Linked DNA regions of Homo sapiens. The protein of the gene in region 1 purifies or fractionates together with the protein of each later gene. This does not show direct contact. Each region holds a gene or a part of one and is shown on either strand. Other genes may lie near its edges. The genes, in order: OGFR and SHTN1.

Evidence for each region.
Region 2: the proteins of OGFR (region 1) and SHTN1 fractionate together in Homo sapiens (co-fractionation; one large-scale study listed by BioGRID). This does not show direct contact.

The regions. Positions count from the first base shown.
Region 1 is NC_000020.11:62,807,816-62,811,457, reverse strand, and holds part of OGFR (opioid growth factor receptor), read right to left. Parts: intron 3,212-3,642; coding exon 3,133-3,211; intron 1,874-3,132; coding exon 1,795-1,873; intron 960-1,794; coding exon 893-959; intron 1-892. UniProt on the Homo sapiens protein: Receptor for opioid growth factor (OGF), also known as Met-enkephalin. Seems to be involved in growth regulation.
Region 2 is NC_000010.11:117,002,295-117,006,691, forward strand, and holds the start of SHTN1 (shootin-1), read right to left. Parts: upstream 2,894-4,397; 5' UTR 2,786-2,893; coding exon 2,728-2,785; intron 1-2,727. UniProt on the Homo sapiens protein: Involved in the generation of internal asymmetric signals required for neuronal polarization and neurite outgrowth.

The DNA.
Region 1 (3,642 bases):
AAAAGACCCCCTTGGAGAGCTCAGGCACCATCCCTGAAGCCCCGGTTCCTGAGTGTGGGGGTGGCCGTGGGTCCCGACTCACTCAGAGGCCTGGACTAGACAGACAGACAGACAGACATTTATTTAGAGACAGAGTCTTGCTCTGTTGCCCAGGCTGGAGTGCAATGGTGTGACCTCAAGTCACTGCAACCTCTGCCTCCCGAGTAGCTGGGATTACAGTTGCCTGCCACCACACCTGGCTAATTTTTTTCTATTTTTAGTAGAAACGGGGTTTTGTCACGTTGGCCAGGCTGGTCTCAAACTCCTGACCTCAGGTGATCCACCCGCCTCAGCCTCTCAAAGTGCTGGGATTACAAACGTGAGCCACGGCACCTAGCCTGGACTCAGACTTTTAGGGTAAAGTGACAAGAGACACACTCATGCCTCCATCTCTCCTCTGAGCTGCTCCGAGCTCTCACCAGGGCCTGAGGCTGCCGCCCTCCCCTGAGAGGAAGTCGCTGGCCATGGGAAAGTGCCAGGAGGGGCCCCTCGGCTCTCTAAGTCCCTGCATCCCTCAGGGGCAGCTTCCACACTTGGGTGACCCCACTCCAGCCTAAACCAGTGGTGAGAAAGGCAGGTCCCGCCACTCCGGGTCTCTCAGGGGCTCAGCCCCAGACTCCCGCATGGGGACAAACAGCCTCGGAAATTGAGTTTCTCTAGATGCCTGGTGGGGTGAGGACCACTGGGGAGGGAAGGTCATCATACTGGAGGCTCTTTCGGCCCTTCTGCCTTCCAAGGGACCCCTGAGGGGGCACCAAATGCCTACTGCCAGAGGCGACCCCGTCTCTGCAGCGGCGTGGCTTGCCCAGGCCTCCCCATCTTCCCCTCCAGTCACAGCCAAGGCCTGGCTCACCTCGACCTCCCTGAGCGTGAGGGGCTTGGCATGCCAGTTCACTCCTGGTTCTCGCAGAGGAAACAGCCTGCAGGAGAAGAGATGCTCAGGCAAGGGATTAGGAGAGCCGCTTCCAGACCTTGGGCAGGTGCTCGCTGTGTAGCCCGGGGCAGTTCCAATCCCCTCTGGGTTCCCAGGCTCAACTCTAGGAGGGAGTGGCTAGGTGGAGGAGCGAGGGTGGGAGAGCTCAGGTGAGCGTGCAAGGGCCCAGGACAGGAGGTGTGTGGTGCGTAAGTCACAGCCTGCATGCTCAGCAGGACTGGGGAGGTGACTCAGGCAGCGAGGGGCCCTGCAGCCATCCAGCCCGGGCGGACAGGGCCTTCCTTTCTACTCCTCACTCTTCCCTCTCTTGTGTTGTCACTCATGACACGTCACACACCAGCAGAGGCTCCCTGTGGACGCCCAGCGAGCTGTCCCCAAAGCAGGGCATGCTGTTTCCGGGGCCACATTGTGGGTCCCCAAGACGCCTGCCACAAGTCTCATCCCAGCACTACGCCAGGACCCTGCCCCAGCTGAGTCCGAGACGGGGGCCGCCCCTTGAGGCTCACTGAGGCCTCCTGGCACTAAGGCTGCCCCTCTGGCAGGCAGTGCCTGCCCCCTCTCCTGTTTCAGGGAGCTTGTGTGCAGCCCTTCCTGTCTCCCTGGTCACCAAGAGCCCACAGATTGGGGACAGACCTGAGCCTTCCCTCAGCGGCCCTTGCATGTCCAGTAATGTCCATCCGTGTAATGTGGACACCAGCTTCCAGGAAGGGCAGGGAGTGCTCAGTCCGTGCCAGGAAGCAGCGTCGGGAGGGCTCCTGCCTGGGAGGGCCCTCCCCCTGTGGCCTCGCCAACCCCCCATCCCCCCATCCTCCCCAACTCACCACTGGATGTAGGAGTGATTGTCCTCAAGGAGGTCATAGTTGTCCGTCCAGTTCTGAAGAATGTCCTCAATGAAACAGCCTGGGAGCCCCATGGGGACAAGTCAGCTGTGGCAGCCACCCTGCCCGTGCTCAGGAGGACGGGGTGTGGGTGGGGGACATAAGGAGAGAGTGCTGCCAGCAGCTTCCCCAAGCTATTCCTCGCCCTCATCTCCTGAGGCTCTTCAGGGTGCTAGGCTCAGTGGGGCTGCCCATCCCTCCTCCGATGCACAGCCCTTGCCCTGCTGCCATCTGTGACCTGGACCCTTGTTGCTGGCTGGCGGCAAACCCCACTGAGAGCCCGGAAGGTCCCTCTGGGGGAACCACTGGTCCTCGACCAGGACCTGTCTGTACAGGAGGGGGCCTCAGTGCCTCCTGCAAAAGCGTGGCCCGTCAGCCACAGAAATCTGTCCTCAAACACAGCCCCCAGCTGAACCCAGTCCCATGATGTGGCAGGCACAGTCTCCTGAGATGGGGGCCTGACAGTGTTTTGTGCAGCCACCCAGTCTCTGTTTCACGTTGCAGCCCGGCACGTGCATAAACAGGTGTGGGCACGTGCCCGTGAAGCTTTATTGACACTGAAATTTTAATTTCTTATAATATCAAAGTAATAGAACACTGTTCTTTTTTTTTTTTTTTTTTTTTTTTTTTTTGAGACAGAGTCTCATTCTGTTGCCCAGGCTGGAGGGCAGTGGCGAGATCTCGGCTCACTGCAACCTCCACCTCCCAAGTTCAAGCGATTCTCCTGCCTCAGCCTCCTGAGTAGCTGGGACTACAGGCGCACGCTACCACACCTGGCTAATTTTTTTTGTATTTTTAGTAGAGACAGGGTTTCACCATATTGGCCAGGCTGGTCTCGAACTCATGACTTTGTGATCCACCCGCCTTGGCCTCCCAAAGTGCTGGGATTACAAGCGTGAGCCACCAGGCCCGGCCTCTACTTTAATTTTTTGCAACCATTTAAAAATATAAAAGCTATCCTTAGCTCGTTGGTTTACATGTGGCTTTCATGAGGTCGTGCAGGAGTTCAGTAGTTTTGATAGAGACTGTGTGGCCTGAAAAGCTGCAGATATTCAGTCTCTGGCTCTTTACAGAGATAGCCCACCCCGACCCAAACACCACTGCGGAGATCCCAAGCCGGGGATCCTGGAGTCCCTCTGGCCGCCTCCAGGGGGCACTGTGGGGCTATTTGAAAGCCGTGGCCCTGGTAATCGCCGGGTACATCCCAAACCAGGGCCCAGTGGACCACCCCTGCCAGGCAAGGATGGAAGCGCCGGCTGCCAGTGGTTGTGAGGCACCTACCGTTGGGCAGGAAGCGGATCTCATTTCTGTAGAAACTCAGGTTTGGCGTGTCCCCATTGCAGTCTCGTTCCACCAGATCCTGAAGAGCCAGAGAAAGGGGACAGCAGGGATCCATCAGACACAAGCTGCCCTGGGGCCCTCCGTGTCTTTCGGGGAGGCGCATCTGCAAACCTCCAGGCTGGCCCAATACCCCAAGAGCCCGCCTGGCTCCTCACTCTGCAGGTGGGGGCCATTCAGAGGACAGCAGCTGCCTCCAAGCCCCAGGGACCCCCCTTCCCCATTTCGCCAGCCAGGCCAGGCCTGGCAGGTCCCCTCCTCAGCACCCTGAAGGCAGCACAGGGGTTTCCGTGATTCAGGGGTGTGGAGGGTAATGGCTGAGGACAACCTGCAGGAGACAGGGCTGGCATGGGGGTGGGGTGCTGTGTGGGCGGTATCACGGACCCCACACGTGTGCATCACGAGGCTGGCACTATGGCCATGTTTGCAAGGCGACGGTGTGCTGAAGCTCAG
Region 2 (4,397 bases), on another chromosome or scaffold:
GGTGACAAGGACTGTGTAGTTCACTATTTACACCCCTAGTGCCTACCACATGGACCTGACATATGGTGGTACTTGATAAGTATTTGTTGAAGGAATGAATAAATATGTTTACTCAGCATTATTAAGGGAAAATAACATATTTGATAAATAGTGGTTCTTCTTGCTCACACTAAATAGGGGTAGTGGAATTATCACTCAGAATATTAACATTGTGAGTAAAAAGGTAGTAACAGGTAGTAAAAATTACTATTTTCAAAAATAAACCATGCAACCATCAGCTTACAAAATTGATCATAGTATGTACTGTTAAATGCTCAAAGACCCAGTTACCTGTTCTTCCAAATCCCTAGCTTCCCAATTAGTTCTACAGGTCAAACAGTAACTGAACACTTTTGAAGTAAATTGTTTCCACAGTCTGTGATCCAATGACAAGCAAACTACCTGGTTTTGAAATGTATAAAAATCACACTGTGGGCTGAAAAAATCCCAACACCTTTGTAACTAGACTCACTATCCCCAAAAGTGTACCTTTTAAGAAACACAACTTTGAATATCTAACTGTTCTATTACCTTTCATATGCACTTAATCAAGGAAATATATCCTCTAAAAATACCAATGCCAAGGATTTGTTTATTTTCCAATACAATGCAATAGGAGAAAGAGCCACAAATATAGAAATCCTTTTTGTCAGGCCTCAAACCCAACATAGGAATGGAGAATGTGTTCCGAAATCAAATATAAGCAATTTGCAGATTATCTACATTGTTAATCGACCCTTGATTATACAAGAAATGAAAGGGAAAATTTTTTTATGTTTATCATTATTCGAAAACTGACCAACCATAAGAAGATCTGATATCCACTGACAGATATTACCTATAATGAAAGCTCCACAAATCTAGAATATGAATCAAGTTTTAATGTTTTGGGTTGGGCGAAGGTGTATTAAATATAAAATACCAGTCAGTAGAATCCAGTCCCTCGCTAAAACACTTGAGAAACTTCAGATAAAGGCATTCTGTCCACCCACTAAATTCACTGATGCTTGTGACTTTATGACCTCAGGCTAATCTAGGATGCCAGGTAAAGGTGCTGGGAAGGCCAAAGAGACTAACATTTATCCAGCACTTTCTAGATGCTGGATATCACAGAAGAATGTGTTATGTCCATTTCAGAGGTTAAATAATTTCCCCAGGGTCACACAGTAAACAGTAATGTTGAAATTTGTTTGCCAGAGTGTGGCTTCAGAGGAATCCGGGAGCACTTCCCAACGGTGTCTGTGGTTTTACGCAACAACAGGTAAGAGTACTGGACAGGACCTCAGAAAGTCCTCCAGTTTCACCCTCGCCTTTAGTCAGGTCGGCCTTGATTGACCAGAAGATCCACGGAAGGAAAGAGACTCCTCCAAGTTCACAGAGCAGGTGAGCTGGGCCAAGAGAAGTGAAAGAGCTGCAACTAAATACCAGGTTTTGCCACAGAGCAGGGATCCTTCCATTACATGGTCTTGTCAGCAAGACATTCAGAAAAGTACATGTTCCTACACATTTTTACTTCCTTTAAATCTGTATGGTTCCTCCCTTTATTTCTTTATTATTTATTATTATTATTTTTTTTTGGAGATGGAGTTTCGTTCTTGTTGCCCAGGCTGGAGTGCAACGGCGCCATCTTGGCTCACCGCAACCTCCGCCTCCTGGCGATTCTCCTGCCTCAGCCTCCCGGGTAGCTGGGATTACAGGCATGCACCACCACGCCCGGCTAATTTTGTATTTTTAGTAGAGATAGGGGTTCTCCATGTTGGTTAGGCTGGTCTCGAACTCCTGACCTTAGGTGATCCACCTGCCTCGGCCTCCCAAATTGCTGAGATTACAGGCGTGAGCCACCGCACCCGGCTGGTTCCTCCCTGTCTTGACCCACATTCGCAGACCACCCTTTGGTCAGGGTAATAATGATAAGTGTTTAAATGTGATAGGTTAGCATTTGGTTGTTGATCTGGTTTGGTTCAGAAGTGTGGTAACTGATGAAAAAAATGATTGACTGAAGCAGGTCTTTATTAAAGGATAATCCCCAGTTACCAAGCAGTACAGAAATGCGTGCGCATGGCCTGGCTCTCCTTCGCCCAGCGTCAACCCTGTTAATTCTGAAAGCTCAACACTGGCAGGATGTTGACCTTGCTGACTAATAAACTGCTAAAATTGAGAAGTGATTAAAAAAAAAATTATGGCCTGAAAATCCCAGCTGGGCAAGGAAAGAGGAACTAGACCGAATCCAAACGAAAAGCTGGGAAGGGTGTGAAACAGCCCTACAGGCCACCCAGCGCCAACAAATGTGTAAGGGTGGGGCCAAGCTAGCTGAGCCGCCCAAAGCAGCCAAAATATCCTGCCCCACCCGCTTCTCCGGCAAGGAAGGTGGCACTGTGCAACCTCGTCCGCACTGAATCCTCGTCCCTTCCCCCAGCCCCCGATCGCCAGCAAACGCAACCAGCGGGCAGCGGGTCTCGAGCTGCGGGGCCTGACTAGCCCCGACACTCCGCGTTATCCTCGGTCCAGAGCTTTCCCAGGCGCGCCGGCCACGGAGGACGCTTCTCTGCGGGTGACGGAGCTACTGCGGTGACCACGGCGGCCGCCACGTCTCCCGCCCGGCTTCCAACTGCCCTGGCCCCAGCGCCCTGGGGCCGTCCCCGCCCACGGGCCGCGGCTGCCCACACCTGGCGCCCGCGTGCTGCCTACCTTGCTCCTTCAGACTGGTAATGAGCTGCAGCTGCTTCTCTTCGTCCGAGCTGTTCATTTTGGCGGGTGGGGCCGGGAATAAAAGGGAAAGAGGGAGCGGCGCGGGGCACACAGGAGGAGGGGGAAGAAAAAGCAAGATGCCGGTGGCTTGCGGCTCCACTACCCGGAAGTTGGATCCGCTCCCGCTCCTCCTCCTCCTGGCGCGGAGCGCGCGAGTGAGATCATCCCCACGCACCTACTCGGCGGCTGCGGCCGCTTCACCTGCAGGCGGGGCGGGGCGGGCCCAGCAGTCCCGTTCAGGGGGTGGAGGAACGAGGGCGGGTCGGCAGCCGCTATGCCAGCCTGTGGCTGCCGGCGCGGCAGGACGCGCTGGTGGGAGGGGGGGCGGCCCTGCGTGGGGTCGCTCCGCACCCTTTTCTCCGCCTCCACCTCCCGGACTCAGGGACGCGAGTTCAGAGAAAACCGGCTGTGGGTTCGCAGCGTGTGTGGGAACTCCACTTTGGACGCTTCCCGGGGGTCGCTCCCAAAGAACCACAGAGGTAGAGCGGGACGCAATGAGCCATGAACGCCTGGGCTTCTTCCCTAGTTTTCCCGCAGTAGACTCTGGGGGCGCGGTTGCAAAACCTAGCTGCCCACAGGGGCGGGCCCAGGGTGGTACATTTTGCACCTTGAAGAGGAGACAAGGATCGAATCAGGCCGCCCAGCTACTTAAATGACCATGCCGTGAGTGAAGGAGGGCCCTGGCTAGCTTTCCCCCATCGCACCAGGTTTGCCAGGTGGTCAGAACGTGGACCCTGCTGCACGTGGATGGTGGGGCCTGGAGGGCCCTTGCAGATCATCTGGTTGGTGGCGGGATGACCTTCCCTTTAGAGAGGGTGCCACTGCAGTCCGAATGCCGAAGGTCACGCAGCCCCCGGGCAGCAGAGGCTGGCAGTTAAGCCAAGCGTTTGTCCCAGTTCACTGCCCTCTGAACTATTTGAACTCATGTCTGTGTTAGACCATGCCCAGGAGAGAAGTGGCAGGTCTGCATTGTTTCAAAGGTGCTTCTCCCCAACCCCTAGTTGCGAGCTAACCTTTGGTCAAGTCTCCTGCATCTTTGAACTTCATCTGAAGAATAGGAAGAATAGTGATACCTACTCTCAAGGAAGAGTTGTAAGGATTTAATAGAGGAAGATTAACAAAACACCAAGTCCAGAATTTATAATGCAGTTTTTTTTTGTTTTTTTTTTGTTTTTTTGTTTTTAATAAAGATTACAGGTCTGTGGCCGGGCACAGTGGCTCACGCCTGTAATCCCAGCACTTTGGGAGGCCAAGGCGGGCAGATCACGAGGTCAGGAGATCGAGACCATCCTGGCTAACACGGTGAAACCCCGTCTCTACTAAAAATACAAAAAATTAGCCGGGCGTGGTGGCAGGCGCCTGTAGTCCCACCTACTCGGGAAGCTGAGGCAGGAGAATGGCGTGAACCCGGGAGGCGGAGCTTGCAGTGAGCCGAGATCGCGCCACTGCACTCCAGCCTGGGTGACAGAGTGAGACTCCGTCTCAAAAAAAAAAAAAAAAAAAAATTACAGGTCTGTGAGAAAGGGGTTGTGGTTGCTGACTATAAGCTGAAGGTTGCAGTTCTTTTACACTGATCATTAAGCATGGGAGATAAGTCCAAACTGAATTAG